2 separate regions of the Homo sapiens genome follow, and region 1 is reported to be linked to region 2. The links are microRNA targets in miRTarBase. Many come from high-throughput screens and were not tested one by one. Region 2 holds a microRNA gene; the other region holds the end of a gene's coding sequence.
Evidence for each region. The annotated mature microRNA hsa-miR-4713-5p reads UUCUCCCACUACCAGGCUCCCA and lies in region 2 at 1,557-1,578, shown strand. An mRNA with a match to its seed (bases 2 to 7 or 8) in the 3' UTR can be bound and repressed. Matches are read on the target gene's strand: a 7mer-m8 pairs with bases 2 to 8, a 7mer-A1 pairs with bases 2 to 7 and ends in A, and an 8mer does both.

Region 1 (4,000 bases), not on the chromosome of region 2:
AAATTTTGGCCTATTTATGTAACAGTCATGCACCAAGGAAAACAAAACAAAACAAAATGCCTGGGGATAAATGGGTTTGAAAATCATTGCCACAGACTTTAGACCTAAAAAGGATCACTGGGATCACCAAGTGAGAAAACTGAGGCTTAGGGAAGTGAGATGCCTTGTCCACGATGTACTTAGGGAAGCTGCCATGTCCAAATGGCATGTGACTCATTGAGAGACCACAACAGGAACCCAAGAGCTGCCTCAGTGACACATGGAGCTCAAAAAAAAAGAGAAGTTAAAGGGAAGAAGAAAGGAACTTTGTCTTGTGGGACAAAACACATGCTGAAGTGATGGGGCACCATGGTCCCATCAGATGCGTTGGAGTTTGCCTTCTGTTCCAATCATAAAGCCCCATCTGCACAGTGGCAAGCCCTTTCCAAGGGTTAGTCCCCATGTGTTTGAGGTTTCCAGGCAAGAGCCACATCGAGCCTCCATAAGCAGGCACTGTGAACCCTCAAGACTGAACAGAAAAGGACCACATCCCCTGTTCCTACTCCTGGCCCAATGCTAAACTTCAGTAGGCTATTCCCCTAATTCTGGAGCAGATAGGAAAGGCAGATGGAAGAGAATGTACACTCCTTCGTAGTTCATCTGGACAGTAATCAGGAGCTGACCCAGGGTGGGCGTTTGGAAGGACTCAGCCTCCGTCCTGCCTGGTGCTGGGATCAGCTTACACAGCTCCTGTGTCCACAGGGCACAGAGAATACATTGTCCATAAGGAGGATTATTCTGTACAAGAAGCTCAGACAAAGGGAGAGGTTGTTTCCAGCTGCCTGGGGGAGGTGAGAGGGGGGTGGGAAAAGGGACCAGCCTTGCACTGGGGCATTCCTGCAGAGTTCAGCTTCTTCTCTGTGGCAGCACAACAGGAGGTGGGCAATTACACCCCCTCCAGCTCAATCCTAATGCTGGGACCCATTATGGAGTTCTAAGGAGCACTTGGCTACAACCTATCTATCTTGGCTGTTTCCCAAAAAACGACAGGGTTGAATGAGGTACACCAGCTAAGTAGGGCAGCAATAAACACCAGAAGGGGAACAGAATGGGGTGACTGGCACAATGAGCAAAAGAGAGGTTCAGCAATGACTGAATCCCAGGCTCAGGGCAGAGCTGGAGAGGGAGAGATCCTAGGCAATGGGCCTTATGCTGACATTGATTGGATAAGCTTCCGCCTTCAGCAGGATGAACTCTGTCCTGTAGTAAGCTCTTGACGTTTCACAGCTGCTGCTTCTTTCTCCATCCTAGACACAAACCTAGGAGACAATGGCCTAATCTCTTTCTCCAGGGGACCCAAGAATAGGAGAAAGCACGATCTCCAAGCAAAACAGGACAGTCAAAAACAGAGGAATGTTACCAGAGTAGGCCAATAGTCACCTTTTGCAAATCCTAAATCTGAGCCAGTAAATAGGTCATGTCCCCTTCTTCAAAGGAAAACTGTATATGTATTCCCTCCTGAGGGAATGAGTATGTTAGGGGTGGGAGATACATACTCTCTATTGAGGCATTTAATAGGCTGTATGGACCCCAAAGTGGGAGACACTACTGAGATTTGTGTACTCCAGATGATTTGAGGATGGGGGATAAAAACGACAGCATGTGCTCCTACGGTGATGAATGTAGAGGAGTCCCTCTAGAGGAAGGAGTGTTTGCTTAGGGGAACAAGATGTAGGTGACATCCTGCATATGTTCCTGTTGGGGCAAGAGGATATTTCCATTCTTGGATGACAAGGAATCCATTTTAATAGTATGGTGGGGATGAAGTCAGTATTTGCCTGGGACACAAAAAAACTTGGGGTTGGTGCCATTCAATAGGAGGGAATCTTTTGGTGGAGTAAAGGACAATAGTCACCAAAAGATGCTCCAGGAATTTCAGAGAAGCACAGCTCAAACTCTACCCAATATGCCAGTTAATACTGACATTTCCAGTGGGAAGGGAAGAGGTGAGAAGATAACACCTGAGTGGGCTGATGAGCCGGAACAGTTTAAGTGGGGGAAAGGTCTGGCATTGCCTTAGAGCTGGTGACCAGACTCCCCTACTGCTATGTATTGTGGTCAGTGAGCTTTGTGGATACCATTCCTCACCTTGATGGAATGGTAACAGATGTGACATCTGGGACCACTTTTCCAGTCCTTTGCTGCCACAGCCTGGCAGAACTTTGTTTGGCACTGAACAAATGCCAAAGTACCAGTGTGTGACAGAACAGAAAAAAGGCAGCTGGAAGGTATGAGCAGGAGGGAAGTTTCAGGATTTTTAGATCAAAGCTAATTAAAGATACGGAAACTTTTTTATGGAGAACAAATTAGAACTGCCTTGCAGCACTCTTGAAACTGCCCCTCTGATCCCTATGTAGTGCTCTCATAAATTACTGTCAGACAACCCTGAGCCAGTGAACATCAATTTAAATAACTTTATTCAGAGGAATCCTTTGGTCCACTTCTGCTGACTCAACCCCTGCCCATGCCAACAAAGGAGTACTAAGAAAGGCAGGTTAGCCTGAATGTCTAAATTCAATTTGTTCAACTTTATAAAAGCAGGCAAAGCTACTGGGGGTTGCCCCCTCCCACCATCATTCTGGTCCACCATTTGGGCCACAGGCTTAGGGAAATGAAGGAAAGTCGTTTTCTTTGAAGGAAATCCTGGCCAAAGTCGAGAAAGTGGGCACCATTATGAGGTCAACTAAACCCTGATGGCAGTGTGAAGTGCAATTCCCTTCTCCCTCCAAAATAAGAAACATGAATCCAGGGGAAGGGGCTTTTTCGTGTGCTAAGGAAAAACCCTTTCCCACATAGTCCTGCCTGGCAGAGCCACTTCCTGAGAAAGCCTCGTGTGTATAAGGTGGGGTAAAGGATAGGGGACTTTATGACTATTTGACAGGTAAAAGCCAAGTTGGCTCCTTAGAGGATGGAAAGGAGAGCAGGCCCAAGCTTCACCAGAGCTGCAGGTGGGCATTTTTTTTTCCTTCCTGGCCCAGAAGCTTCTTCACCTTGCGCCTTAGAGGGATAGCCAGAATGAAACCCAGGCAGGAGGGCCTGCAAAAACAGTGTGCCTCTAAGAACACAGAGGTTGCTACAGTTTCTGGCAGCACAAAATAAGCATAGCCTTATTTGATCTTGTGTCCATCAGCTCACCATTGACGTGAGGCAGTATCAGATTAGGGTAAGTTCTGGATCAAGGACTGTGGAGGGTGGTGGGGAGAAGGATCTGTAGAAACTATCATTTATTGAATACCCATTATTTCATATACTGTACTAAGTGCTTTACATTCATTTCCTCATTTTAATCCTCACAACAACCCTATGAGGTAGGTATTATCACCATTTACAAATGAGAAACAGGCTCAGAAAAATTAGGTCACTTGTCCAAGGTCACACAGCTAGTCAGTGGTGGAAGTGGGATTTGTCTGCTGCTGAAAGCCCATGTTCTTTTTATTGTACCCATCTAGGTGAGCCTTGAGCAAAAGGTAATTTCACTGCCCAACTCTGCAAAGAGCACCAGGGAGTCGAGGTTGCCAGCCACACTCACCGCTGGTAGGGATGCATGGAAGCCGACTTGATGTTGGTTTTTATTCCACTTGGCATTTTCCCTGAAAGGAACATTAAAAAAGTCATCTTAAGCAAGGTAAGACTTTCATGACAAATCAGAAATGTGGTACCTCAGGTTCCCTCTGTCACTTCCTTTATCATCTCAGAACCTCTGCGGCATCTGACCCTGTTTGACAGAGGTCAGAAGTATGATTCTTCACCCAGCTGTCTCCCTGAAGGTGTCCAGGAGGAAAGAAGTGACATGGGAGAATAGTCTGTTCATCCACTCCTAGAACAGATAGCTAAACCTGTGTGACTCCCATTTAACGTCACAGGTAAAAGAGTACTATGTTCTCTCATTGTTTTTCTTTTTTTATATCATAATAAGTGCAGAATCTCTCTTTAATTGTCCCTTTTCCTAGACAGCTTGGAG
Region 2 (4,490 bases):
CTCACAGTCTGTGCTACTAGTGGATTCTAACTAGACCTTCTGTTTTCAAAAGGAAAGTGTGAAACTAGAAACTACCTGTCTAGCAAAATGATCATCAACCTGGGCTTTAGGACTTCCTGGTGGTCCCCCTACATTCCCACTTTCTGTCCAGCTGGGGAGATGACAAGCCATTTCCCTTCACTGGGCTTTAACCATTCACTTGTAAAACGACAAGTTTGAACTCCATGGCTTCTCATGCTTGTCATAGTGTTTTGTCTGGGCAAGGCAGATCAACTCCCTGGGTCTCAGTTTCCCCTTCTGTCAAATGAAGGAGTTAGGCTCATATTTGTGGCTCTCAACCTTGGCTGCTCATAAAAAATCAGGAAGGGAGATTTTTTTAAAAATAGCAACCCCAAACTAGCTGAGCTCCTACCTCAGACAGTGCTGAGAATCACTGTGCTACTTGATCTGACTGTCAGTGGATCAGCATGATGGCCCTGGCCCAGAAATGGTGGACAGAGTGAGGTGCTGCCTACTCTCCCACTGATCCAGAGCTTCAGGGCTGCTGGTTCTCAGGCTTGTCCTAACAGGCTGACCTCCTTGGTCAAGGGTCCAAGGAAATTCCACCAGTGCTGATTAACATAAGCATCTGCGGGGACTTTTTAAAAATGCATGTTTCTAGGCCTGAAGAGTCTGAGTCAAAAAGTCAGGAGCAGGGTCCAGGAACAGAAATGTTAACAAGCTCCTACCTGCTGGGTGTTCTTACATAGACTTAAAAGCTTGAGAACCTGTGGCTCACTGGATGGGCAATGCTGCGTGGGCAATGCTGGACTCTCCTGGCCTGATTGTCTGCTAACACAGACAAATTGGAATTTAGCACCTGAGCCTATGAAGGGAAGAAGAGGAAAAAAAGGCTCTCCACCCCCACCACTTACTCACCCCACCCCGACCATTCACTGACCCTGACCTAGAAGCCCCCTTGGGAGAGGAGAAATCCAGTGAGGAAGGGCCACACTGGGGAACAGAGTTCAAGTTAAAGACCATGAAACAGTTGTCCCTTAGCTCTGAGCCTCCCTTCTCTAGAGTTGACCCTGTCAGGGAGCAGAGAACAAAATTAACTAAATGTTCCTTTAAACTGGGCATTAAAGTAATCTAAAATATCAGGCTGAATCAGGCAGAGAGACAGGCAATTATCTGGAATGTTAAAAAGAATCCAGACACAGAGCATTTTGTGCTAGCCCCATGCTCCCACTTCTGATCCCACTGAGACTAGGCCCACCACACTTACCAGTGTGTAACTATGCTCTTAAAGTCTCATTGGATATCTTATGGAATTGGGAACAGATGTGTCTGCAATGAAGCATTTTCACTGAAACCTAAAGAAGCAGTCTGAAATTTCAAGTCATTCTGAATTAATCTGATATCTGATCATTGCGGCTTTAAGGGTGGAAGGGTGGGGTTTTCTATTGGGATTATCTGAATAATTATATTATTCTCTGCTTTTGATTGAACCACAGATCTTGTTGAAGATTCTCCCGGGGTATGATGTTCCAAGAGCACTGGAGTGGTCCCCATTTTTCTCCCACTACCAGGCTCCCATAAGGGTCGAATGGGATCCAGACAGTGGGAGAAAAATGGGGACCACTATCACCACATTCCCAAGAATAAGAGAAAATGATGAGTGGAATAAAGAGAAGGGATAAATACAAGACAAAGAGGGGGCATGGCGGAAACAAAGTGAAAGGGAGAAGAAAAGCAGTGAAGAAGATGTTCCAGAGACATTTTCACCTTCAGAGCAAAATTGCAATCTATTTTTTAAAAGTTAACCAGAAAACCCTGGAATTTTACTTTACTCCACCCCATCTTGAGCTTGTTTTAAAGGGTACTTGTGCCAAGTCTACTTTACGAAAGCACAGCACAGAGTGGAAGGGTTTATCTAAGATATTTTTTAAGTGCTTTCATTTAAAATGTGCAGATAATTGGTCTGAAAATTTTCTCCCAAGTCCTCATTTGCTAACACAGACATAGTCTTCAGAGATCTTTCCAGGTTTGCTTTTTGTCCTTTTGCAAAATTTTCTTTACCATCATGGACCAAAATCCCAAGTAAATAATCTCCTTAGATACAGAAATAAATGACTGACTTACCTGGTATTGAGGATGTGCCCTCATAATTCCACACCAAGAGAAAAAGGCCAGTGAGGAGCAGGACTGGCATGGTGGCAGCAGGCATGGCTTCAGGCACGATGCTGGTGATGTTATAATGTATCGGGTTCAGCATTTCCAAAACCATCTTGTGTTCCTTGACCTCAGAGGGGGCAATTTAGAGTCCTGTGGAAATCAAAGGGACAGAAAAATTACAGAATCCCCTAAAAGGTTCATCTATAGCTCCTGTTGCTTCAGAGGGTGCTGTACAGTACAGATTCACTTACTGTTTTATAATGTGATCAGACATTTAGGCAAGACTAATTTATGGTTACAAGTCAAAACAAGGAAGCCCAAGAAAGATCTTTTGGCTTGAATTGCAGCATTTCTGACCTTGGTAGAGTCTCAGGTTCCTTTAGACGCTTGGTCTGATAGAACCTTATCATCTTGCCCTTGAGTGGGTAGAGTGACGTGCATTCCCAATTGAAAGCCAAATTTCTTGCCAAATTATAAGAAAATAAAGCTCATTCCAGAGGTGGAGTCATTTTGTGACTTCATCAGCAGGTTTTGTTTAGGCAATCTTCTTCCCTTGAAGCCAAATCAATTTCAAAACAAAAAGGCAATCTCCCAACTCCCCTTTTTGACCAAAATGACTTTTTTGATCAAAATAGTAAGTTTCTACAGTAAGAACACATTTCTTGGGCATCGTTGAGGTCTTCTCAGAGCCTTCCATCAGTTTGTCTATTGAATTCAAAGTGACTCACTCAGGCCATCTCTAGTGACTTCAATGAAGATCTAAAATCTCTTGTACCATGGGCCAGATTAAACAGTATCCCTAGGGACCGGCCAACGGTAGTGTGGAAAAAAAGAATTGCAGAGGAAGAATAAGGGAGAAGAGAATGAAAGGAATGGGGAAGGAGGAAGAAAGAGAGAACAGGCAGAATAGGATGCCACCAGCAATAGGCTCAGGTGCCACTCAGGAACCTCATTCGAAGAGCAGCTAACATCCTGTGCAAGACAATCAATTTACAGTCTGATGTGCTGGTTCTGCTGTGTTTTTCAACATGCCATTGAATCTGTCTTTTCAGCCAGGTTTTGTAATCCCTTTACTCTCAGAACAGAGTTTCAGGGATGGTAGGTAGTCTGTAGCTGAAGAGGTGTAGGTTGAACAAACTTGTATAGTGAGGAAAGAGTGAGTCATCATTAAATGCATTTTCAGTGGCAGATGACATACTCCAAGGTTTGCCTTTACTTAGACAGGGCCTAGAGTTTCTGTGACTTGCAATGGCTCTCAATCAGACTTGTGCTGGGTTTCACCTGTAATAAAATTCTAGATTCACAGCCAGGGCTTCTAACTGGATATTGGGGGCTCTGTGTATTCCTTGAAACACTGCATAAAATATTGTAATCGGCACATTCTAGTGGAGAAAGGCCATAACTTTCATCAGATTCTTAAGGAGTATGTCATTATATTTCTCCTCTGATCTATATGAGATCTTAAAGTCCAAAGACTGATTTCTGTCAACTACAAAATTTTTACAACATAGTTGAATTTATCCAGTTGTTTCATCATTTTATGTTATTCTACCATTTAAATAATCATTAATGCTTGGGTGCAGGGCACTGAAAATGCACTGGAAAGGTCCTTTGAGATTCTCTCCTGAAAGCACATTGTGCTTATGTTGAGCAGTTTTGTGGTTGTTTTTTTTTTAATATATATAAGTCGAAACTAAAAAGTCAGCCTTGTGTCTGTTATCATCTGGTTCCTTTGTTGATGACAAGCTATTTTTAACAGGGTGAGGTTTTAAATTTCTAGAGTGGAATTTGACATCATTCTGAGTAAGTTCTATGTGACTTTCTGACAGTTGGGACCCTTGAAGTTTCGATTTATATTGATGAAACCTGAAACCATTGTTCAAAGCATAAATGAGGAAAGTGGTTGCAACAAAAAGGATGAAGATGTCCCACAGGAAGTGATCCCAGCAAAAAACTTCACATTATAGGAACTTCCAGAGGTATTTCACAACACTGAAAGCAAAGAGATAAGATGTTGCAAGCTGATGCAAATTTATAAAGGACTATGGCAATTCACTGGCATAGAAAAGATGTTCCCTCAGTATCGTAAGTTATGCAAAGAGAAGAAGGCAAGCACTTTTAAAAAACCTGTTAGTAAGTTTATTTTCACAAAGAAAGAAAACACTTAAAATGTTGCATTGTTTCTAATGTTTCAAATTACTGTGTCCTAAAATATTTTACTATTTTTGTTTGTTTGTTCCCCTACACACTTATAACCTATGGTAAGAGTTTCTAATGCTTTGACAACAAATTTTAAAGGTCACAGAACAGTTTTAATTTTTCTCTTGATTTTT

Region 1: miRTarBase lists MED8 as a target of hsa-miR-4713-5p. Seed matches in the 3' UTR shown: 7mer-A1 at 2,757-2,763.

What each region holds. Positions count from the first base shown.
Region 1 is chr1:43,381,478-43,385,477 of GRCh38, forward strand. It overlaps MED8 (mediator complex subunit 8), which reads right to left. Exons shown (of 7, transcript NM_201542.5): 7 at 2,440-3,629. The coding sequence ends at 3,565. MED8-AS1 (MED8 antisense RNA 1) reads left to right here and starts at 3,572. Exons shown (of 2, transcript XR_001738027.1): 1 at 3,572-3,664; 2 at 3,807-4,000.
Region 2 is chr15:51,240,644-51,245,133 of GRCh38, forward strand. It overlaps MIR4713 (microRNA 4713), which reads left to right and starts at 1,547; the gene lies at 1,547-1,621. It overlaps CYP19A1 (cytochrome P450 family 19 subfamily A member 1), which reads right to left. Exons shown (of 10, transcript NM_000103.4): 2 at 2,125-2,307. The coding sequence starts at 2,269. All of the region lies in intron 1 of MIR4713HG (MIR4713 host gene), which reads left to right. RefSeq lists promoters at 2,225-2,482, 2,285-3,262, 2,403-2,664, 2,608-2,637, 3,251-3,407, silencers at 2,483-2,644, 2,490-2,519, 2,547-2,574 and cis regulatory regions at 2,635-2,656, 3,315-3,321.